2 linked regions of the Homo sapiens genome follow. Changing the gene in region 2 together with the main gene of any one other region gives a genetic interaction. Each region holds a gene or a part of one and is shown on either strand. Other genes may lie near its edges.

Region 1 (8,838 bases), on a different chromosome or scaffold from region 2:
TTACAAAGTTCTTGTTGAACTGTAAACAGGTCACAGCACTCTGATGCTTGTTGGGACCTAGACAAAAACCAAAAGAATTTAATTACTGGTTAGAAATAATGGCTATGAGTTAGTTACATTATAATTTGTAGACTTCTACTTTAGAACATACAATAAATGCAACATTTGAAATGATACATATTTAGAAACCCATGTCCTCAGTATTTTAGGATCAGCATGGATGTAAGAAAATCTGGTAGTGATTTGTAACTGAAACATTAACTTTCAAGAGGTCTGTCTTCCAAGAAGCTTGGTTAGCTACCAGACAAACATCTTATTTTCTGGCTGTGTGAACGACAGCATTCCTTGGTGAGGATGTAGATAGTGCAACTTCATACCTTCTGCTGATGGACAAATGAGCACTAAGAGATCTATTACCCCACCACCATGAACCACTCAAAGCTGAACAGTCACTATTCCAAAACTCTGAGGAGAGACAAAACCAATGAGTAAAAAGCTGCAATGTTGCCTATCAGATGGCCCCACTGAAAAAAACACTTTCTAAGGGCTATAACAAATAGAAAAAGTTAATCATGAGGCACTGCTGTACCTCATCTAATATTAGTGATTTTCACTTGTTTCTTTCTCTACTTTAGTAGGCACTATTATTCCTCTCCATTCCAGTTAAGCACGTGACTAAGTGGAGGCCAAATAAATTTTCTATCAAGGATGCTGTTGTTTTTTTCAATAAGGTAGCCCTTTAAAATTGGACTACAAATTCAAAATGCAATGGTCAATCAAAAAATATAATGAGTACGTTGCTTCTATGATATAGCCAAGATCTTTCTTCTCACTGTTCTTAAAGGTTAAGTAGAGTCAATTGAACATGCAGGAAGTGATTAAACAATTTTATATTACATATTAAAAACACAGTTTAAAACATTTCCTCAAGAGTAGACTAGTTCTGTAAGTCAGGGTGAAAATATTCATAAACTTTTCTGAAGTAACCATTCTGTATGAGGTTGACTCTTTTTGTGATGCTAAGGCTCCATATTTCTCTTGAATAATGATCTCATTTTTAATGAACAAAACGAAAGGTGAGTAAGACTTACCTTGCAATGTTTGTAAACACTGTCCTGTTTTGATATCCCAGATTTTAACTGTAGAATCTGCATTCCCAGAGACAAGAATATTGTCTTTGAGTTCCATTCCACTTGTTAACGACTGGTGCCCTGTTAACGTGTGAATGCAATTCCCTGTCTCCACATCCCAAACACGGATTGATGTATCAAGAGATCCACTCACCACATGGATACCATCAAACTACAAAAGACACAGTTTATTAGAATAGAAGTATGGATACTCTTCCTATCAATTACTGACCTTAATCCTAGTAGGAAAGGGGGAAGAGGATGGGAAACAGGTAATGCCAGGAACAAAATGAGGTACTAAGATAAAGTGGCAATGAGGATAAAGTGCATGCCATCAAGCAACTCTACAATGTATGTTCTCACACACTTCTATCAGAAAGGCTCATCTTTATGCCAAGCAGCTTCAAACTAGATGCAGAAACAACTTAAAATGAAAACAAAGCACCTAAAATGAACAATATGTTAATTTTCAAATCATCTGGCCCCACCTAGCTATATATCATGGATGACTGAGAGAATTGCTATGAGTTTTACTTCCCACTAGGAAGCTGAGACTAATGACATAGCTTATGATAAACGGAATGCTTATCAGCACCTAAGGCATGAAAAGGGCTAGAGATAACTTTCGTGATGTTCAAAAGTAAGTTCCATTAAAAACTGTGTGTAAAATAAAATTTCATTTATAAGAACCTAATGCTAATTAGGAAATGTGCCAAAAGATAATTGTATCTGGAATCAGAAGAGGTGGCATTTTGAAATCAAAAGCAAACTACATACTACCTCTTCTCCAGCTTCCCAGCTACACCAAAAGTCAATAACAGTCTATCATTTCTAAACAATAATGTGGCTACCTCTTTTCTCAATCAAACAGTTTATTTAAATTAGAATATTATATTCATTAAGCTTCTGAACATATCAGAAACAGGTGCAGCCAATTCCCCTTCCTCCAAATTCATCACCTTTTCTAATTTAGCAAACATTTTTATCATATTGTCAATATTTCATGACATGGACAATATCCCTTTGACAAAGAAACAAATATCCTAAGAACAGAATTGACAGTACTAAGATTATGTACTAATTTGCTGAACATTAATGGGTAATAACTGGTAAATAAACTATATAAGCTATAGGAAATATTTTTACATTAAAAATGTTGCCTTTCTGGAAATAAAACAAGATTCATATTCTAAACTTCCTATTCATCTAGTTAATGATCTCAAAATATGGCAATGTTTTCAAGGATATGGGCTTGAAATATAAACCAAAAAAAAGAAATCGGTTTAGTCAACTTTACTTCTTTATGACTACAAATCAGTGGGCCTGGGACAGTAGAGTGCTTTATGCAGAAAGGATCTATTTCCACTTTGAATGGGGATGGAATCACAATTACATGGTCCATCAACTTTCAGCTATCAAAGCAAAGGGGCAGCTTTTGGCCATATTAATCTTCTGCAAAGGAGTTTCTTAAAATCCAGGTTACTCTCCTATGAGACTATTTAACCATTAATTAACATAGCAAAACTTAGAGCCCCAAAGTGTCAGGTTGCAAAACAAATATTTGTATTTAGAGGAGAAATAGATCACAGAAAATTGAAAGCATTTAAATAATTTTGAAATTTACACTTTCTTCATGCCAATTTTAACGTATATAAAAACAGCAGAATAATCTGATTAATCTTTTTTGGACTGTACTGGATCAGCAATTTGACAGTGATTATCTGAGTAAAACAACCTTATGATTCATCAGGAGAGCATTTAAGGGAGAGATAAGAGATCTTACCTGTAATGAATAGACTCTATTAGTATGCCCCTGCAACGTGTGTAGACAGGTTTCAGTCTCTGGATCCCACACCTTTACCATAAAATCATATGCTCCACTAACAACCCTCCTGCCATCATATTGAACACAGCGGACTGCTGCAACATGACCCATCAAAACATGTAAACACTGGCCTGTCTCAATATCCCAAACCCTAAGAGTGGCATCTCGAGAACCGCTAACAACTCTGCAGAGGGAGAAACAGAAAAACAAAACAAAACAAAAAAACCCACGTTTAGAATTTTTAATAATATGAGAAAACATGGTAGATTTAGTCAAGGTTTTTTAGCTTTTTTTTTTTTTTTTTTACACAGCAACAACCATTTTCAAAAGAAATCCTATGTAAAACCTTGGTATATAAACATAATAAGGGAATGGGAAGTTGGGAAGCCTAGAATGCTGCATGCTTGGTTCCCTGACCTGGGGACCTTAGGTTCAGCACCTTAAGGTTCTGTGGGACTGAGTTTGAAAACCACTGTACTGTATTTTTTAAAAAGCAGCAGAAGCTGCCTCTAAATATATACAATAAGATTTTGATTTTAGAAATAAAATGTTAATGTGGGCATATGTATAAAATGTTAATGGGAGAACTCTAGGTGGTAGTGGTTTAAAGAATTTAAATTTTCTTTATGTTCTTTGCCATTTTCCAAAATTTCAATTATGAATGCATATATTCCCTTGTGATTAGGTAAAAAATTCAATAAAGTTTATACAACAAAACAAGTCAGAATTTGGAATTTAAACAGCTGCAGATTTGTGTTTACACTATACATTCCAGTAAAAATTAACCAGTTTTAGACATGTCCTCAAACACAGGCTGCTTATGCTTTTAATGATTAGATTTATAAATATGCAATAGGCTATAAAAATATTAAGAGATAAAGATTTTAAAAGATATGTACATCTTTAAAAACAATGGCTATCCCTTAAACATTTGGTTCAACATCAGCGCTATACTCTTCTGAAAACCAGAGCAATATACAAATACTGTAATCACTTTTGGATTACAAAACAAAGCTGAAAACTCAGGTATCCTTATGTCATTCTGAAGAGATAAAGAAATACCACAGTTTCCATATTTTAAAAAAGTAGATAATTAAAGGGTTGAGAGAACCCTTTAATTGAGAACCTAATGTTGAGAGAACATAATGGAAACTGGAATACAAGGTCTCTTGATACTCATCCCCCAAATTTTAACAGTATAGCACACTGTTCAAAGTAGAGGTAAATGACAATTGAAAAGGTACTCCTTTTCACATATTACAAATCTGGTGTGAAATCTGCTTAATGTAATTGTTCTTAATAAAGAAGATGCGATAGACAGAATTAAAGGTAAAGACTGCCATGGATTCACTGTAAGGACCTTTCAGAGAGACCTTTTTTGACAAATGAGGTAGAAATCACACTTGTTTAACAGGGGTATGATGACGATAATAGAAAGATAGGATTTTAATAGGAGGGCTTTACAGGAGGAGATAAAAGCAACAGCAAAGGCACTGAGAAGAGAAAGTCAAAAAGTCCAGTTTGGCAGAAACCATTTTGAAAACTGGATCGAGGATTTCTTCCTTAATTCGTTAGTCAACAGTAGGCTCAAAAAGACTTAAGAACTGGGCAGTGACACTATCATAATTATAAAAGGACTATATGTCAGCTGTATAAAACATAAGATAACCAAGTTAGAAAGCTGTGACAATAGTTCAGAATGAGAGAACAAATTACCCACAGGCCTCAGCTTTTGCCTAGACTTAGAGATAGGGTGGGTGTAAGGTGGGTAGGTAATTTAAAAAGGCTCAGACGCTTGAAGCCTGAATTTGTCCCACTTGCGGAAATAAGAATATCAAAAAAAGAGAGAGAAAACATGATTTCTGCTTGAATATGATGAGTCATCAAAGATACAGAACAACAAAAAGGATTAGAGATTAGAGAGTAGAGAGTTTCAAACAGGAAGCTGACAACACTAGCAAATGAGAAAGGAAATTTACAGACAATCACCAATTTTAAGACAAAACGCTATGGCTTTCCTAGAATAGAAACATCTGAAGTGTAATAATTAAATCTAATTTAAGAGCACACTGTCACTATTTCAGTAACTCTACACAGAAAGGGCCCAAATTCACCAATAATAGAGGAAGAAGTCCCAACCATGACAAGATTTTCCCTTACCTTTTTTCATGAAGATGCATACAACGCACAGTGGAAGTATGCCCATATAAGGTGTGTATACATTCTCCAGTCTCTGCATTCCACACTTTGAGTGTCCGATCTGTAGATCCACTAATGATGATGTTGTCTCTCATTTGTGATGACCATACTCCACCTGTATGTCCCACTAATGTTCTCAGACACTGGAAAAACACTTAAGATGATTACTTTTGGGTAGAAAGGAAAAGTGATTTAAATAAAATTTAATAGCTCATTAAAATTTGGAGTAAAGTTACTTATTTAATTTGTTTGGCTCTTCAGAAAATATTACATCCGTATAAAATGATCCCATCACTATTTATTGTTTTGTTTATTCAAAAGCATTATAAATTTATATAAGCACAAGCAATTGTGTATGTAGTATGTAGAAAGCAAACATATGATATAAAACATGATATAATAAAAAGGAAACACGACATGAAAGCAGTTATGATAGCTCTGGCCTGGCCTCTTTGATGAAATAATACTGAAATTGCAACTGGGTTTCTTCCATGGGAATAGATTCAATGAAAGTATGCCAACAGTATTGGGTGTGGCTACATACCACATTTCATCTGAATCTGCCCCAGGGCAGTAGTTAGGAGCCAGTGAAGCTACTTCTAGACAAGTAAAGACAGACATTAAAGCCCTGTAATAAATCCCAAACTAATATTACACTATGGAAATATAAAGCTGCTTTAAAAAATTTTAACATCTGACTTGGAATATTTATAAGATACTTGCCAAGAAGCAACATGGTAAAAGACATTTTAAAAGACATGGATTTTTTTTTGTTTTCATACTCTCTTCTGTTATTTTTTAGGTGGCAATTACTTAATTCATGAAAATATTCTCTACTGGACAGATAAAAATAAATATTCACTAGAGAATCATTAAGGTATGATATGGTACACAGTCAAGCTGATTGCTTGGGCTTTTTCTTCAAACTTAACATTTAAATGCCTTGTCCACTCTCATCTCACAAGGGTTTGAGATAAGTATAAATTAACATGATTTATTAAGTTCTAAACTACAGGTAGGTTATCAACAAAGCAGTTTATAAGGAAAAATAAATATCCCTCAACCATACTTTTGAAAAACATTACAAAGTAATGAGGTATAACTTAGATAGTAAATAAAAGTGGGGAAAAATTGAGCCAAGAAAAACATAAAGCACCCTTGAAAATGTTAAAGTATCTGTCACAAAGATAGACAAACTATGTAAATGAAAAAAAATTAATGAAACCTCTATCATGAGAAGCATCACTATCCTCATGCCATTGGCTTTCATAAATATGGGGAAAAAAGCTAAGTTATGAGCTCTGATATTTGCTATCCAAATAACTAAGAATCAAAAATGAATTATTGTTTTCTTTTTTCCAGTTGCTACTTGCAATGATATACACAAAATTATGACTTTGTGAAGTGTAGGAAGAGTAAACTTACTTTGCCTGTGACTGCTGACCAAACTTTTAAAGTGTTGTCATCAGAACCACTAACTATTCGGTTACCACAAAACTGTAAGCATGTGATCACATGATCATCATGTCCTTTCAGCACCTATAAGAAAGATGTGCAGATTAGAAATATGTTAATTAAATTATGTTCTTTAAAATACTGGTGAAGAGAAAAATGAAGGCATAAACAGGAACAGTAATTTGTAGTCTATCTCTAGAATTTAAATTTATATAAAGCATTATTTTTCCTGGCTGACGAATCCAGAATTAAACATTTTATTGTTTCCATAGTCTATTATTTATACTCAAAACATCAACTATTAAAGTTTTACTGCATCAAGACCTCATAAAGATGGTTCAAACACCAATGTATTTGACAATAATCTATTCCATCTGTTCAAACCAGAAGAATATGCCTCTAATTTTTACAACTTTGACACACAAGAACAAAATAAGCATCTATTAACCACAAAGAGTAACAATTATTAGCATTCTTAAAACAAAAAAAATCATAATATATACATATTAGTATAACAATGTCTCCCCAAATTGGTTTTTTCCAGTTGTAAAAATACGCCCAATAATTTCAAGTGTTTTTACCATTCTTTATGTATTTGAAATGTTATTAGACAGAAAACCAGAATTATGCTTCAATTTGTAAAAATAAGACACACAAAAGTCACCAAATCCAAAACACAGACACTCCTCAAAAAATCATGTTTGGAGTATGTGATCAGAGGAGGCAGCAAATTCTTAGGTAGAATGTGTATGACACAGTAAAATTCAATAGGATATTGAGAGATTTTCATTTACGTAAGATAAAAAGATACTCAATTTAACTTATCTTTTATTCAAGCACAATTAGTTGTCAGATTAGAGAAATTAGCAATAAAAGAATATTGTCAGTTAATACTTTCAGTTATTTTAAAATATACGGTTTTCTTTCTACAGAAGAGGAGTGTCATATTATACAGTTTGCCAAGTGAAATAGTACACTAGGTACTAACACTGATTAACGGTTTCTGTTACATTGTGCAGAGTTCAGTTACCTTAGGAGATTTGAGTTCTCCTCGCCTCCAGTTAGTATCAATTCTGTGCTGTCTGATGTATGCACTTTTCCATGGACTGTGTATGAAACCTGGTTTTATTACTTTTCTTCTCTTGATGTGCAATGGTTCATCAATCCCTAAAGTGTTACAGTTCAAGAGTAAATTGCCTTCACCAATAATAACAGTTATACATTTTATAAAGTATTCCATCTTTATAAAGAGTATTCCATCTCTCTGCTCAAAACCACTGAAATGCAAGACATTGTCAAATTTCCAATACTGTTATCACAGTATGTAGCAATAATGTAAAGTTTACATTCTATATGGCATATTTTTGTATTCACTATTTCATTTCTCAAAATGATTCTAAAATATGTTGGTGAAGATGTGAGGAAATTGGAATGCTTGTGCAAATGGTGCAGCTGCTGTGGAAAATAGTCTGGTGGTTCCCCAAAACAAACACAGAATTAACATATGATCTAGCAATTCCACTTCTGGATACATAACCAAAACAATTAAAAGCAGAGTCTCAAACAGTCATCTGTACACCCATGCTCATAGCAGGATTATTCACAGTAACTAAAACGTGCAAGCAATCCAAGGGTCCATCGAAAGATGGATAAACAAAATGTAGCATTAGATACATATACACAATGGAATAAAGGAAATTCTGACACATGCTATGACATGGATGAACCTTGAAGACATTATGCTAAGTGAAATAAGCTGATTACAAAAGGAAAAATATTGTATGATTTCACTTATATGAGGTACCTAGAGTAGTCAAACTCATAGAGACAGAAAGTAAAAGGGTGGTTGCCAGAGGCTGTGGAGAGGAATAATGGGGAGTTAGAACAGGGGGCATGGAGTTTCATGTGAAGATGATGAAGTTCTGAACACAGATGGTAGTGAATCTGAACACAGATGGTAGTTGCAAAACAATGTGAATGTACTTAATGCCACTGAACTGTACATATAAAAATGGTTAAACTGATAAATTACATACATGTTATCACAATTTTTAAAAGATCATTTAAAAAATGATTATATGGAAGAAGGGAAGGCACAGATTAATTCCACTTTATGTATGCAAATACTTAAGAATGAAGATTTCACTGATTAATCCAAGCCCTACAGAGGTCAAAAGCAGGATGACAAACCAAGCACCCTGGATCTTTACCTCAAACCTTTATTAACTG
Region 2 (16,799 bases):
GATAGCTTGAGCCCAGAAATTCGAGGCTGCAGTGAGATATGATATATGATCACACCATGACACTCCAGCCTGGATGACAGAGCAAGACCCTGTTTCTGAAAACAAACAAAAAACCCAGAAAGTAATGCCCAAGAGGATCCTTTTATACAGGTTATCATGGACTAGCATATTAATGAAAATTCCTGCAACAAAGCAGCTAATTTAACTTAGTTCAAGGCAGCAAATTCCACATTTCTTTTGTCAAGGAACTCCTTTTTTTTTTTTTTTTTTTTTGAGAGGGGTCTCTCGCTCTGTAGGCTGGAGTGCATTGCTGTGATCTCAGCTCACTGCAACATCTACCTCCCAAGTTCAAGCGATTCTCCTGCCTCAGCCTCCTGAGTAGCTGGGATTACAGGTGCCCGCCACTATGCCAGGCTAATTTTTGTATTTTTAGTAAAACAGGGTTTCACTATATTGGCCAGGCTGGTCTTGAACTCCTGACCTTGTGATCCACTGCCTTGGCCTCCCAAAGTGGTGGGATTACAGGCATGAGCCACCTTAACTGGCCTCAAGGAACTCTTTTATCTTTAGGTATTTCATTCATGTCCCCTGGAATCTTGTCAAATGCTGGCTGAAATTTTCTTGTAAAATTTTGTGGCATGGCGGCTTATGCCTATAATCCCAGCACTTTGGGAGGCTGAAGTGGGAGAATCACTTGAGCTCAGGAGTTTGAGACCAGTTTGGGCAACATAGCAAGACTCCATCTCTACAAAAAAGTGTTTTGAAAAAATTAGCCAGGCATAGTGGTGTGCCCGTGCTCCTAGCTACTTGGGAGGCTGGGGTGGGAGGATCGCTGGAGCCCAGGAGTTTGAGGTTGCAATGAGACGAAATTGTGCCCCATACTCCAGCCTGGATGACAGAGAGACCCTGTCTCAAAAATAAAAAATAAAAATAAACATCTTTCCTGATTTGACAGGCAAAAGGTGGTGTCTCAATATTTTATGTAACATTCTTCAAATATGAATGGGGGTGAACTTGGCTTTCATGGTTTTTTGGCTATTGGTGTTTCTTTTATGTATTGTCTTTTCAAATATTTGCCCAGTTTCCTTATTGGCTTTTCATGTTAATTTCACATTACTTTATTAAAATCTTTATTCTTGGCCGTGCGCAGTGGCTCACACCTGGAATCCCAGCACTTTGGGAGACTGAGGTGGGAGGATTGCTTGAGCCCAGGAGCCTGAGGCTGCAGTGAGCCGAGATTGTGCCACTGCACTCCAGCCTGAGCAACATGGCGAAACCCCACCTCTACAAATAATACAGAAATTAGCTGGGTGTGGTGGCATGTGCCTGTAGTCTCAGCTATTCATGGGGCCTACTGAGGTGGGAGGAGCACTTGAGCCCGGGAAGTTGAGGCTACAGTGAGCTCAGATCACACCGCCGGGATCACACACAGGCTGGATAACAGAGCAAGACGCTGTCTAAAAAACAAACAAAAAAATCAGCTCTTTTTTTTTGAAATGGAGTTTCGCTTTTGTTGCCCAGGCTGGAGTGCAATGGTGTGATCTTGGCTTGCCACAACCTCCGCCTCCTGGGTTCAAGCGATTCTCCTATCTCAGCCTCCCAAGTAGCTGGGATTATAGGTATGGGCCACCATGCCCGCCTAATTTTGTATTTTTAGTAGTTTCTCCATGTTGGTCAGGCTGGTCTTGAACTCCCAACCTCAGGTGATTCGCCTGCCTCGGCCTCCCAAAGTGCTGGGATTACAGGTGTGAGCCACCCTGCCTGGCCTGCAGCATTCTTTCCTTCATTTTTTTTTTTTTTTTTTTTTTTTGAGATGGAGTCTCATTCTGTCACCCAAGCTGGAATGCAGTGGCATGATGTCAGCTCACTGCAACCTCCACCTCCTGGGTTCAAGCAATTCTCCTGCCTCAGCCTCCCAAGTAGCTGGGACTACAGGCACATGCTGGCATGCCCAGTTAGTTTTTTGTATTTTAGTAGAGATGGGGTTTCACTGTATTGCCCAGGTTGGTCTCGAACTCCTGAGCTCAGGCAATCCACCTGCCTCGGCCTCCCAAAGTGCTGGGATTACAGGCGTGAGTGCCCGGCAGCATTCTTTCTAGTAAAACTTTTCTTTTTCAAGCCTACGCTGTCCTCAGTAAATTCTTCTTACTGTTAGAAATAAGTTCTTGGTGCCACAGAGAGAGACCAGCACTCGGAGAAAAGTTTCTTAGCAAGGCAAAGTTTACTTCTGCAGAAGCGTGCTGCCCAGACCTGTACCAAAAGCACACCTAATAAAGGAGAGCAGGGGTTTTTAACCCCCGTTGGCTAGGGTTGGACCTCACAATCTAAGCTGATTCCGATTGCCTATTTCTAATAGAGGCGGGGTATGGGTTGCAGCGGCGGGGAGGGGCAGTTTCCCCGGTAAGGGCAGTTTCTGCAGGAAGGACAGTTCATAGAGCAAAGGACAAGGAAGTTAGATTTTTGAAGAGGAACTCATTCTGTCTAACATTACCAACACTTTCGCTCCCGGGGCTCTGACATCTCGCCCGGCAAAAGAGATTTCTTTTCTTTTTTTAGATGGAAACGCCTCGTGCTTGAACAGGCTTGGGAGCGGACCAGGAGCCCGGGGAAAGGGACAAGTAGAGATGCAGGAAAGCAGGAGGACAGGAAGGAGGCCCAGCCGGCTCCAGCCACTAAGGGAGCTCGCTCGCCTCACTTCCACTGCGGCCAGAAAGTCAGCTTCGGCGCCTCCCCCGGGACGCTGGTTCCCCGCCTCAGATTAAGCTCGGCTGTCTGTACCGGATGCCCGCGCCTGCGCTGCACCGCCCTTCGCGGAGCGCGGAGCCAAATGCCTACATCCCACAATCCCCCGCAACGCCGGCAGGGGCGAGACCTCAGCTTCCAGCTCTGGGCAAGACCAGGCTCAGATTGTCGCGTAGTTTTCTGGGAAATGCCGTTTGCGTTCCAGGATGCTTATGCCACCTTTGAGACTACGCGACCCATAATGCACCAGGGGCGCAGCGTCTGAACGGTGCGCTGCCGCCCCCTCGTGGCAGATGGGCGGTCATTGCCGAGGCTAGGCACGCAAAGGTTGCGGGATCTGGGAGGCGAGCCCAAGTCCTGGGAACCCCTGGGAATTCCCTCCCAACCCCAAACTTTGGGCAGGAAAGGTGGAGTGTTGACGGGAAACGGTGAAAGACTTGCGGACAGGGCCTGCTGTGAGGATTAAAGGAAACCAGCCCAGTAACTGTTGGCTGTATAATCCTTAATAATGTGACACGCCACGTGCTGGTGTCACGGCATGGAGTCTCGCTGTGTCACCCAGGCTGGAGTGCAGTGGTGTGAACACAGCTCACTGCAGCTTCTACCTCCCAAGGCTCAAGTGATCCTACCACCTAGCCTTCCAAGTAGCTGGGACTACAGGTGCGTGCCACCACACCCGGCTAATTTTTGTTGTTGTTGTATTTTTTGTAGAGACAGGGTTTTTGCCATGTTGCCCAGGCTGGTCTTGAACTCCTGAACTCAAGTGGTCTGCCCTCCTCGGCCTCCCGGAGTGCTGGGATTATGGGCATAAGCCACCATGCCTGGCTTTTTTTCTTTTTTTTGAGACGGAGTCTCACTCTTGTCCCCAGGCTGGAGTGAAGTGGCACGATCTCAGCTCACTGCAATCTCCACCTCCTGGGTTCAAGCCATTCTCCTGCCTCAGCCTCCTGAGTAGCTGGGATTACAGGCACGCGCCACCACACCCAGCTAATTTTTGTATTTTTAGTAGAGTCAGGGTTTCACCATGTTGGCCAGGATGATCTCGATCTCCCGCCTCGGCCTCCCAAAATGCTGGGATTACAGGCGTGGGCCACCGTGCTTGGCCTCTTTTCTTTTTTTTTGGTTTTGAGACAGGGTCTTGCTCTGTCATCCAGGCTGGAATGCAGTGGTGCCATAACTCGCTGTAGCCTTGACCTTCTGGGCTTAAGTGATTCTCCCACCTCAGCCTCCCAAGTAGCTGGGGCTACAGGCATGCGCCACCATACCTGACTCATTTTTTGCATTTTTGTAGAGATGAAGTTTTACCATGTTGTCCAGGCTGATCTCAAACTCCTGGGCTTAAGCGACCTGCCAGCTCGGCCTCCCAAAGTGCTGGGATTACAGGCATGAGCCACTGTGCCTGGCTGAGTTGTACATCTTTTTTTTTTTTTTTTTTTTTTTTTTTTGAGACGGAGTCTCGCTCTGTTGCCCAGGCTGGAGTACAGTGGCGTGATCTCAGCTCACTGCAAGCTCTGCCTCCCGGGTTCACGCCATTCTCCTGCCTCAGCCTCCTGAGTAGCTGGGACTACAGGCGCCCGCCACCATGCTTGGCTAATTTTTTTATTTTTATTTTTTGTAGAGATGGGGTTTCACCATGTTAGCCAGGATGGTCTCGATCTCCTGACCTCATGATCCGCCTGCCTCGGCCTCCCAAAGTGCTGGGATTATAGGTGTGAGCCACCACATCCAGCCAGAGTTGTACATCTTTTTTTTTGAGACAGTCTCGCTCTGTCGCCCAGGCTGGAGTGCAGTGGCATGATCTTGGCTCACTGCAAGCTCCGCCTCCCAGGTTCTCGCCATTCTCCTGCCTCAGCCTCCCCAGCAGCTGGGACTACAGCACCCACCACCATGCCCGGCTAATTTTTTTGTATTTTTAGTAGAGAAAGGGTTTCACCGTGTTAGCCAGGATGGTCTCGATCTCCTGACCTCGTGATCCACCCGCCCTGGCCTCCCAAAGTGTGGGATTACAGGCGTGAGCCACCGTGCCCAGCTGGCTGTACATCATTTTTAAAGGCAAAGGATATCCCCTCCCTTCCCTTCCCTTTCTTCCTGGTAGCTACAGCAGATGAGGTGGGAATGATGAGAAGATGGGGGAACAGCAAGATATGAGGAGACAGAGGCTGGCCCCTGATACCGAAGGGCCACTATTTACCCAGTGGGTCCCCAAATCATGAAGTCCTCTAAATACTTTCTGGGTTTCTAGTGAATTTAATGCATGAGTCTCAAAAATCAATGGCAAAGGAAAAAATGAATAAAATTAAAATGGGGTCAGGAGAAAAGGGCCATGGGCACACACAGGAGGGGCAGTCAGTGGCTGAGCTAGGAGCTGAAGCAGGGGAATTCCTTAGGTGTCATATCTCGTCCAACCCGTAGTCCTCCTCCGGGAAGTCCCCCACCGTCACGACTGCTGGCTTGACAAAGGCGCCATACTTGGCCTGGCATTCGAAGTAGCGTTTCCCATTCACACTGCAGGAAAGGATAGGGGTGGGTGTGGTCAGAGGACCCTCACATGGCTCCACTCTAGAAGCTGGCATGGGCAGCTCAGCAAGCAGCACGCATGGACTTACACACAAATGCACACACAGACACCTGAGTGGGAATTCTTGTTACCTGCCATCATTTTTCCCCAGTGGCTCATCATAGCGGACACCAATCCAGTAGCCAGGCTTGAAATCTGTGAGACCTGCCAACAGAAGAGAAATCCCTGTGAAGCTTCTGGACATAGAAGAAATCCCCATGAAATTTCAGGATCACCCTGGATCCATGCCTACCCATTGAGTAGAAGCCTGTCTTGGTGAAAACCATTTCTTGCTACCTCTATTGCTACCACTAGGACCACCTCCAGCTCCTGCCGGGACTAATATGGTAGCCACTTCACTGGTGTCCCTGCTTCCACCCCTGTCCCCCATTCACTGGGTGAAGACACCAGCCAGTGAGGGCTTTGTAAAAACCTAAGGGGGATGGCACTACTGCCTTGCCAGAGAGAGAGGCTTCAGAATAAATCCAACCTGCTGACAGCTTGATCTTGAACTTCTAGCCTCCATTACTGTGAGAAATAACTTTAAGTTGCTCAGTGAGTGGTACTTTGTTAGCAAACTAATACACAACTCAGCGACAAAAGACAGCATCCCAATGAAAAACTGAGCAGAAGAATATACAAGGAACTCAAAGAACACCCACTTTGCAAAAAAAAAATCCCATTACAAAGTGGGCAACAGGAAGTTGAGGCTGCAGTGAGCCACGATCATGGCCAAAGGACATGAACACACACTTCTCAAAAGATGACATACTGGCCGGGTGCGGTGGCTCACGCCTGTAATCCCAGCACTTTAGTAGGCTGAGGAGGGTGGATCACGAGGTCAGGAGATCGAGACCATCCTGGCTAACACGGTGAAGCCCCGTCTCTACTAAAAATACAAAAAATTAGCCGGGTGTGGTGGCGGGCGCCTGTAGTTCCAGCTACTCGGGAGGCTGAGGCAGGAGAACCGTTTGAACCCGGGAGGCGGAGGTTGGAACGAGCGAGCTGAGATCATGCCACTGTATTCCAGCCTGGGCACAAAGCGAGATTACGTCTCAAAAGAAAAAAAACAAAACCAAACCCCGACATACCGATGGGCGCAGTGGCTCATGTTTGTAATCCTAGCACTTTGGGAGATCCACCAGCTCAGGTGGATCACTTGAGGCCAGGAGTTTGAGACCAGCCTGGCCAACATGGCAAAACCCTGTCTCTACTAAAAATACAGAAATTAGCCAGGTGTTGTAGCGCTCACCTATAATCCCAGCTACTCGGGAGGCTGAGGCATGAGAATTGCTTGAACCCGGGAGGCAGAGGATGCAGTGAGCTGAGAGCACCACTGCACTCCAGCCTGGGTGACGGAGTGAGACTGTGTGTCAAAAAACAAAAGGCAAAGGATCTGAATAGACATTTCTCCAAAGAAGATACACAAATGGCCATGCAAAGATGCTCAACATCATTAGCTGCCAAAGAAGTGCAAATCAAAACCATGATGATGTTCCACTTCACACCCAGTGGATGACTGTAAGCAAAAGACAGACTAAAGTGCTGGTGAGGATGAGGACAAAATGGGACCCTTCTGCACTGCTGGCGGGAATGAAAACTGCTGCAGCGGCTGTGGGAAGCAGTGTGGCAGGTCCTCAAAAAAGTCAAGCACAGTGTTACCATGTGGCCCAGGGATTCCACTCCTAGGCACAGAGAAATGAAAACAAATGTCCACATAAAAATGTATTTTTTATTTTTTGAGATGGAGTCTTGCATGGTTGCCCAGGCTGGAGTGCAGTGGTGTGATCTTGGCTCACTGCAACCTCCGCCTCCCAGGCTCAAGCGATTCTCCTGCCTCAGCCTTCCGGGTAGCTGCGATCACAGGCACCCGCCACCACGCCCAGTTAATTTTTGAATTTTTAGTAGAGATGGGGTTTCACCATGTTGGCCAGGCTGGTCTCAAAATTCCTGATCTCAGGTGATCTGCCCACCTTGGCCTCCCAAAGTGCTGGAATTACAGGCATGAGCCACCATGCCCAGCCACACAGAAATTTATAAAAGAATGTTCAGGCCTAGCATGGTGGCTCACACCTGTAATCCCAGCACTTTGGGAGGCTGAAGCAGGACGATCACTTGAGCGGGAAGAGTTTGAGACCAGCCTGGGCCACATGGCGAAATCCCATCCTACAAAAAAAACCACAAAACTTTAGCCGGGGGTGGTGATGAGTACCTGTATTCCCAGCTACTCAGGAGGCCGAGGTGGGAGGATGGCTTGAGCCCAAGAGGTTAAGGCTGAAATGGCCGAGATTGTGCCACTGCATTCCAGCCTGGGCAATAGCCAGATGCTGTCTCAAATTAGAAAAAAAAAAAAAAAAAAAAGAAGAAGGTTCATAGCAGCATTATTCATAATAGCCAAAAAGTGGAAATGACCCTAATGTCCACTAACTGGTGACTGGATACACTGTGGTCTAGGCGCTCAATGCAGGACTATTTGGCAACAGTGTGGCACTGACACAGGCATGCCACGGATGAAACTTGAAAGCATTCTGCTCAGTGGAAGGCGCCAGTTACAAAAGGCCACAGACTGCATGATCCTATTCCTATGAAACATCCAGAATCGGCAAATTAGAGACAGACGTAAATTAGTGGCTGAAGACGACTGGGGGATGGGTACACACAGGCATAAAGACGGAAATACCAGACAGTGGGGATGCCAGAAACAGGAGGGTGGTGAGGGTTGAAAAATTATCTGTTGGGTACGATGTTCACAATTTGGGTCATGGGTACACTAGAAGCCCGGTCCCCACCCACTAGCAGGCAACACACCCATGTAACAATACATATATGTACCCCGTGTATCTTTTTTTTTTTTTTTTTTTGGAGACAGGGTCTCCCTCTGTCACCCAGGCTGCAGTGCAGTGGTGCGATCATAGCTCACTGCAGCCTCAACTCCCGGGCTCAAGCCATCCTCCCACCTCAGCCTCCCAAGTAGCTGGGGCACCTATAGGTGCTCACCACCACAACTGACAAAAGTTTTGTGGGATTTTTTTTTTTTTTTTTTTGTAGAGACAGGGTCTCATTATGTTGCCCAGGCTGGTCTCAAATTCCTGGGTTCAAGTGATCCTCCTGTCTCAGCCTCCCAAAGTGCTGGGATTACAGGTGTGAGCCACTGCACCCAGCCTTTTTTTTGAGACTGGGTCTTTCTCTGCTGCCCAGGCTAGGGTGCAATGACACAATCATAGCTCACTGTAACCTCCAACTCCGGGGCTCAAGCAAGCCTCCCACCTTGTTCTCCCAAAGTGCTGAGTTTACAGGCGTGAGCCATCATGCCTAGCCTGTTCTTTTTAAAAAAATCCACACTGCTCTCCACTGTGACGCCGCCCTGCCCATGCCCCTGACTACACTTCTCCCCTCTCCTCCCGCTCCCCTTCCCCAGGTGGACCTCCTGCGCTCTGCTCACCTGCACCCGCTACTCCTTCTGGCGGGAACTCTTCCTCCCTTTTCACCTGGCTGCTGCCTCCTTTCCTTCAGATGCTCCCAGCCTCCAGGTGCTTCCTCTGGGCTCACACAGCCCCCTGTGTTCCCTCACTCCTGCCTTGGTCACGCCGCCCGTTTCCCCACCGCGACTGACACTGCCCCACGCTTCGAAGCGCACAGGCCGCGTGCCTCTGGCTTCTGCTTCCTCCCTCGCTGGACAGATCACTCCGCCTGCGCCTCCCACTTCCCTCCACAAACACTCTGGGCCGTCAGTGTCGGCAGATGGTTCCGTCACCTCCAGGGACTGAGATCGTTTCGAGTCCCCCCCAACCCCGCGCCCCTAGGCAGAGCGTGGTCTCCGAGGCTCCACTGTGCCCCCAACATTTCCTCCCGGCCTTGGAGCCCTGGAGCCCGGGACCGGGCCCGCGAGCCACGCACCTACATACATGACGGTGCCCCGGCGAGGGGATTGTCCCGCCGCCCGCACCTCACAGCGGCTGCCCACGGGGATGGAGCTGGCCTGGGCCTTCTCCTCGGCCAGGCGCTGGGCGGCCTCGGCCTCCTGCTGAGCCCGCTCCTCCTCGTTGTACCGGCCGAGCTTGCTGCGCTTCAGGAAAGAGCGGACCGTGTCTGTGGGCAGAGGGGGCTGGGGTCAGTTGGGGTGTCGGCCGGGCCTAACAGGATGACGCTCCACCCACGAGGGGCCCACGTTCACGGAGGAACTCTCTCTTCCAGGTGACAAAGGGCTGTCACCCAAGCCCCAGGTCTCCCACCACAGCCTTAGCCTCTCCCAGGACTCCTAGGCCCCCCAACTCCACAATCGTAAATGGAAGGGGTGCCGCCTGCACCCCTCACTACAGGACCCATGGTCTCTCACCCCTTCAGCGCACATCTGCCTTCATCATCCGCCTTCCTCCTCCGCCCTCCTCCGGCCCTGAGGCCCCCGGTCTCCCCCAACACTCGATCCGTCCCAGGCGCCCTCACTGACCGCCACCCTGTCCACTCGCATTCCACCTGTCCTGCCCTCCACACCCCGTCCGACCGCCCCATGCCCCCATCTGACCCTGACAACACCCAGCCCCCACACCTACCCCTCAACTCCCTCCACTTTCCCAGCCCTCCCCCGACCACGTCTGACTGCCCATACCCCTGACACCTCCCGGCCCTCATTCCCACCCCAGGCCTCCGTCTGTCCCCACTCCCAGCCTCACCCCTATATCCTCCCAAGCTCTCGGCCCCCCGTCTACACCACTGGCCTCCCTGCAGGGGCCCTGTCTAACCTGCCCGCCCTCATACCTGCACATACTCCCTCTGGCCCCCACGCACCCCTCGACGCCCACCTGCCCGTACCTTGCCTCTGGTCGTAGGCTTCTTGTGAGATCGTGTACTTCTCCACCCGGGACACGTCCTCATACTCACCAAGGCGGGCGCCACTGTGGTCAATGACCTGTGTGAGGGGAGGGGCTCCGTGGGGATCAGGGTCTGGCCAGGGAGGCCTGGGTGCTGGGTGCAGGGACTTCAGTGTCTCCATCTGGGAAAAACGCATCTCCCTCCCTCGCCTGTACTGCAGCCTTCTCTTCTCTCCTGAGCCCAGCGGAAGGGAGAAGTAGCTACGTACACTGGCCACCTCCCCTTCCTCACCCCCATCCAAGCTCCCAGAGGCTGCCTCTGTCCCCAGAAGTTCCCCGCTTGCTGGCATCAACATCGCCAAGGGCCCCAAAGTCACAGAGTCCAACCGGCAGAGCTCAGGCCTTGCCCACAGCCCTGTGCACAGCGCATCTCCTCGATGGGCCTCTGGGACTCTCCTAAGCTGGCCCCAACCTCAGGCCCCAGAGCATCTCTTCCTGTTCTGCCCCCACTATTCATTCATTCATTGGTTTCCGAGCTCCCAGGGGCCCAGCTGGGCCTCATGCTGGGGACTCAGTGTAAACACAGACGCACTCTGCCCTCAGGCTGTGCTCATTGTGCAGGGAGAAGGCCAACCACAAACAAAGGAACAGGTACCTATGAAACACTGGAGGATGGCTATGGAGAAAAATATGACAGGGAAGAGGCTTAAGGAGCATGGGAGGGTAGGCTTCCCAAAAGAGGGGATGTTTCAGCCAAGGCTGGAAAGATGAGCAAGAACGGCAGGTGCAGACGGCCAGAGGTAGAAATGTCCTTCACGCTCTAGAGTGGGTGGTGCGGGTGGGGTGGAGCGAGCCAGAGGGAGAGTGGAAGACACAAGGGACTGCTGGAGACTTTGGGTTTTTTTTTTTTTTTTGACGGAGTCTCGCTCTGTCACCCAGGCTGGAGTGTGGTGGTGTGATCTCAGCTCACGGAAACCTCTGCCTCACTGCAAATTCAAGTGATTCTCCTGCCTCAGCCTCCCGGGCAGCTGAAACTATAGGCACACACCACCACACCCGGCTAATTTTTGTATTTTTAAGTAGAGACGACATTTTGCCATGCTGGTCAGGCTGGTCTAGAACTCCTGACCTCAAGTGATCTTCCCACCTCAGCCTCCCAATGTACTGGGTGGGATTACAGGCACGATCCACCGCACCTGGCCTAGACTTTGGTTTTTATCTGGAGCGAAGTGCCACCAGGGCAGGGCTCTGAGCTAGGAGGGCCCTGGCCTGACTCAGGTGGTCCCAGGCTCCCTCTGGCTGAGATGGGGAGCGGGGAGGCCAGGGAGGAAGCTGCCGGGATGGCGAGGTTGGGGGAAGGATGGAGGCTGGACCAGGGTCAGGGAAGTTTTTGTAGGTGGAGCCGAGAGGATTTGATGAGAGTGGATGTGGGGGTGAGGGAGAGAGCGGGCCCAAGGAACACCCTGAGGTGTCTGGCCTAAGCCACTGGGCTAACATGGCAAAATAGGAATGGCCTTTACCTCCGGATGAAGCGTCACTGAGAATTTCTGTTGAGAATTTTCACAAATTTGAAGTTCTGTTATTTTAAACAATGAATATGGGTGATATTTATAAAGAGAAAAAGAATTTTAGAAAATGTAAAAATTCCCCAGTGGCTCCACTCTGGAACACCTTCCTTGAGTGGCCTGGGAGGTCTGTGTGTACCTGAACCGCCTGTTATGAAACCTGCTCAAAGATGCCACTGCCTATGAGGTGCCTATGAACACCCGCACCCCTTAGCTTCAGCTGCCCAGGGTGGCCCAAAGGCTCAGTCCTGTGCACCCAGCAGAGGCCTGACCCACAGCTCCAGACCTCGTCCCCTCATCAGGACTCTCACAGCAGCCCCTTCCTGGTCTCCCTACTCTTCCTGTCCTCCACCACCTGTTCCCCACACACAGCCAGAGGGGGCCTGTGAACACCTGAGCCAGGTCAGGGTCCTCCCCAGCTTCCACAGTGTTTGGCCACAGAAGTGGCCTGTCTTAATCCCCACCGCGCTCCCTCCCACCTTGGAGTGTTTGCTGGGTTGTGCCCCACTCCTAGGGCACCCCTTCCCCATCTTCAGTTAACCTTTTTTTTTTTTTTTTTTTTAAAGATAGGATCTCACTCTATCATCCAAACTGGAGTGCAGTGGTGTGATCTCAGCTCACTGCAACTTCCAGCTCCTGGGTTCAAGTGATCCTCCTGCCTCAGCCTCCTGAGTAGCTAGGATTACAGGCATCTGCCACCACGCCCAGCTAATTTCTGTATTTTTAGGAGAGACGGGGTTTCACCGTCTCGAACTCCTGACCTTAAGTGATCTGTCCACCTCAGCCTCCCAAGGCACTGGGATTACAGGCGTGAACCACCATGCCCGACCAATTCTTTTTATTCTTCTCGTCTCTGCTCCAGCAGCACCACCTCCAGGATGTCCTCCCAGACGTCACTGATGCATCAGGTACCCCAGGATAGGGTCTCCCAGCTTCATGATCTCCTACACAACCCTTGTCTCCCCTGACCCTTCACATTCAGTCCTCTGGCCATTTAGCCAACATCTGCCTCATACACTAGAACTTCTCAGATGCAGTCATAATGAAACCCCTGGCACAACACAGATGGGGAATGAACAGTTAATCAACGAGAGAAAAAAGAAGCAGTTCTCTCTAGAGTCATGTAGACTGGGGCCAAAATGCTACTGACAGTTCATCCTTAAGAAAGTAGATTCTGGGCCGGGTGCGGTGGCTCATGCCTGTAATCCCAGCACTTTGGGAGGCCGAGGTGGGCGGATTACCTGAGGTCAGGAGTTCGAGACCAGTCTGACTAACATGGTGAAACCCCGTCTCTACTAAAAATACAAAAATTACCCTGGTGTAGTGGCGGGCATCTGTAATCCCACCTACTCGGGAGGCTGAGGCAGGAGAATCGCTTGAACCGGGGAGGCGGAGGTTGCAGTGAGCCGAGATCATGCCACTGCACGCCAGCCTGGGAGACAGAGCAAGACTCTGTCTCAAAAAAAATAAAAAATAAATAAATAAACTCCACCCTGAAGCTAAATTTTCTCTTCTGCAAAATGGGGATAATTACATTATCCTTGTGGTCTTACTTTATGGATTCAATTCATCATTCAACAATGATTCACAGGGCTGGGCGTGGTGGCTCATGCCTGTAATCCCAGCACTTTGCGAGGCTGAGGTGGGCAGATCACTTGAGGTCAGGAGTTCAAGACCAGCCTGGCCAACATGGTGAAACCCCAACTCTACTTAAAATACAAAATTACAAAATTAGCCAGGCGTGGTGGTGCACACCTGTAATCCCAGCTACTTGGGAGGCTGAGGCAGGAGAATAGCTTGAACCCAGGAGACAGAGGTTGCAGTGAGCTGAGATCACACCACTGCATTCCGGCCTGGGGAACAAGGGCAAAACTCTGTCTCGAACAAAACAAAACAAAAAACGATTCACGGACTATCCTCCCTGTCCCAGGCACTATTCCAAGTACTGGGGACACAGTAGTGAATTATAGTGATCAAAATTTCCACCCTCAGGGCACTCGAATCCAGGGAGACAGAGAGTAAATAAACCAGATGAGAGAAATCCAGAGTGTGTCAGAGGAGAATTACTTGTAAACACAAAAATCTAAAATAAAGCAAAGAAGGGGAAAGGAATGAGGTAAACGTTAACACTGAGGCCGGTGAAGACTTCACTAGAATACTGACACTTTAAATTAAGACAGGAAGGAAGGGTGAGGCACGCAGGCATATGACAAAAGAACCATTCAGGCCCAGGATCCAGAGGCCGAGCTCACCTGGACTGTGCAAGGAGCAATGTGGCTGCTACAGACTGAGTGAGGTCGGGAGGGAATAAGGACAGAAAGGGGCTGGGCTTGGTGGCTCACGCCTGTAATCCCAGCACTTTAGTAGGCCAAGGTGAGCTGATCACTTGAGGTCAGGAGTTCCAGACCAGCCTGGCCAACATGGCAAAAACCCATCTCTACTAAAAATACAAAAATTAGCTGGGTGGGCACCTGTAATCCCAGCTACTCGGGAGGCTGGGGCACAAGGATCACTTGAACCCAGGAGGTGAAGGCTGCAGTGAGCCCGATAGTGCCACTGCACTCCATTCCAGGTTGGGTGACAGAGTGAGACTCTGTCTCAAAAAAAGACAGAAAGGATGTACTGAGTGGATGCACAAAGAGATCCTGTGTTCTGGTTTCTCCCAAGCTGTCCAGCCTGGTCGCTCACTGTGACCTACCTCACATTCTAGGCCTCTGTACACCCTGCTCCCTCCTTTCCACCTCTTTCTCTTAAGTCACCCTTTCCTCATCCCTCAGCTCAGACATCCCTTCCTCCAGGAAGCCCTCTCTGATTCTCCCAGGTGGAGTCAGGCACCTCTTCTTGGTGGCTCCAGTCCCCTGGGATTTCCTGATCCCAGCCCAGACCACTCTAGGCTGTCCCTGTCTAATGATGGGTCTGTCTCTCGTCAGGCTGCACTGGAGGCTCCACGAAGGCAGGACCTATCTCGGGTATGACTGAGGGCAAAGCCCAGCAAGTGTCTGTTGAATAACCAAATGAAAGGTGGGGTGGGGGAGTGTCCCAGATAGAGAGTCCTCACGTGGATGCGGCAGCCGTCATCTACAGGGTAGGAGCCCAGGAGCGCATCCTCTTGATCCAGCTTGCTGTAGAACTTGTCGTCAACTCCATACAGCTCCAGTTCCATGCAGGAAGCAGGGCTGCCCACCAGCAACTCCAGTTTACACTGTGAGGAGGAGGCAGGGTGAGAAGAAGGAGGCCACGGAGGCCCCGCCCCTTGCATCAATGACCATCGCCACGTCCCTTTTCCTCCAAAAGACCCCCCAGTCAGGACGCACGGGGCCGCAATCCAGCCCCTCGCCTCTTGCCCCCGCCCTCTGGACCGTCGGATTTTTCGCTGGACCCGGCCCTCATCTCTGCACTCTCGAGTTCTCTCCGGACCCGCCCCGCCGCGACCGGGTCCCCAGCCTCCGCAGCCTGGGATCACCTCCGGGCCCGCCCAGTCACTCCCCGGCCCCTCCCAGCCTCCCCCTTCCGGGAACCCCCCAATTTCTTCGCCCCGCCCCTCCGGACCCCGCCCCCATGGCCACACCTTGAACTCAGCGATGGTGAGGCTGCGGCTGTATCGCTTCTCGGAGCGGAAGGTGTTGAGGGAGCTGCTGATGAAAACGGTCACCGTGGGTGCCGACACCCCCGTCACCTCCATCTTGCCGCGCCCTGCGGATGCCTGCAGCGCGGTCCAGCCGCCTCACACCCGCTCCGCAGCCGCCGCCGCCGCTGCTGCTGCTGGGCTATCAGCCCCGCCTCCTGCTCCGTGCCTGACCAATCCGCGCTCTCCTGCCAGGAGCGTCCGCCAATCGCCGCCGTCCCTTCCCCACCGCCAGGAAGAGGGCTCTCCTTACTCTTGGGCCAGCCCAGCCAATCCAGAGGGGCCTTCCATAGTTCACGGTTCTTCCAATAGCGGCCCGGGAAAGGACCAGAACAGGCGGCGAAGACTGAAGCCCGGAGGTAGGAGTGGCAAGAGCTCGCCCAGTCCGCGAAGGGTAAACTCGCGCATGCGCACTGGCCTTCAACCAAGCCAAGCGCCTTGGCTTCTGTCCTGGATGCTCAGTGTTTTGCGGTTTACGATGCGCATCGTTTTCCCGGCTCTGGCACCAGATCCATACTATTCTGTAAACTGAGGCGGCGATGCCCAAAAATTGGAAGCAATTACTCTAAGATATCAAAAGATTGAAGCAAGCCATGAAACCTCTGCGCGGAGAGAGCCGAGCCCGAGGCGGCGGGGAGCCAGCACGTGTGCGCAGCTCCGCCCTCTTTTGGCGAAGCACCTAGGCCTGGCCCCTCCCGCGACCTGTAGCGCGGCGGAGCAAGCGCGGAAGGCTGGGAGGGCTGCGCGGGCTGCGCGTCGCCATGGAGCCCGACGGGACTTACGAGCCGGGCTTCGTGGGTATTCGCTTCTGCCAGGAATGGTGAGGCGGAGGGAGCGGGTGATGTTAGAAGGCGGGCGAGGAATGGCTCCAGAACTAACCCCTGGCACCTCCCCCTCCCCACAGTAACAACATGCTGTACCCCAAGGAAGACAAGGAGAACCGCATTCTGCTCTACGCGGTGAGCGCCGGGGTCTTCCCCGGCAGGTCCACCTGTTCCCAGCGTGGCCCCGCCCTGCCCCCTGCCTCTGTGATCGGACTCCCTGTTCGCCCTCCGCTGCACCTCAAGTGATCCTGACTCTCATGTCCTGCCCATCCCCAAAGAGAGTCCTGTCGTCATATCCTCCGGGATCACCCTGCCCTCTCCTCCCAATCTTGTCTGGAATCCTTCCGTGACCCCCTTTCCCCCACACTCGCCCTCTCGTAGTGCCGGAACTGTGATTACCAGCAGGAGGCCGACAACAGCTGCATCTATGTCAACAAGATCACGCACGAAGTGGAGTGAGTGGCGGGCCCTGAGCTGGGGGCGGGGGTGTTGGCTCTGGAGGCTGGGTCTGAGCGTAATTTTGCACCCCCGCGTCCCTGCAGCGAACTGACCCAGATTATCGCCGACGTGTCCCAGGACCCCACGTTGCCGCGGACCGAGGACCACCCGTGCCAAAAGTGAGCGTTCAGCTGGTACTGGGGAGGTAAAGTGAGGCTCGTCTCCTCACTGGGCGAAGGG

What was found.
Region 1: changes in TBCB (region 2) and FBXW7 are lethal when combined (synthetic lethality), as found in Homo sapiens cells (one study listed by BioGRID).

What each region holds. Positions count from the first base shown.
Region 1 is NC_000004.12:152,323,093-152,331,930, forward strand, and holds part of FBXW7 (F-box/WD repeat-containing protein 7), read right to left. Parts: intron 7,777-8,838; coding exon 7,640-7,776; intron 6,694-7,639; coding exon 6,580-6,693; intron 5,298-6,579; coding exon 5,116-5,297; intron 3,140-5,115; coding exon 2,914-3,139; intron 1,303-2,913; coding exon 1,092-1,302; intron 58-1,091; coding exon 1-57. UniProt on the Homo sapiens protein: Substrate recognition component of a SCF (SKP1-CUL1-F-box protein) E3 ubiquitin-protein ligase complex which mediates the ubiquitination and subsequent proteasomal degradation of target proteins.
Region 2 is NC_000019.10:36,114,116-36,130,914, reverse strand, and holds TBCB (tubulin-folding cofactor B), read right to left. Parts: upstream 15,448-16,799; 5' UTR 15,355-15,447; coding exon 15,241-15,354; intron 15,146-15,240; exon of another isoform or gene 14,987-15,145; intron 14,875-14,986; coding exon 14,731-14,874; intron 10,206-14,730; coding exon 10,109-10,205; intron 9,389-10,108; coding exon 9,197-9,388; exon of another isoform or gene 8,742-9,196; intron 5,465-8,741; coding exon 5,392-5,464; intron 5,248-5,391; coding exon 5,133-5,247; 3' UTR 4,974-5,132; downstream 1-4,973. Other genes in the region: POLR2I (DNA-directed RNA polymerase II subunit RPB9), read left to right, coding at 16,059-16,117, 16,202-16,256, 16,503-16,576, 16,664-16,738.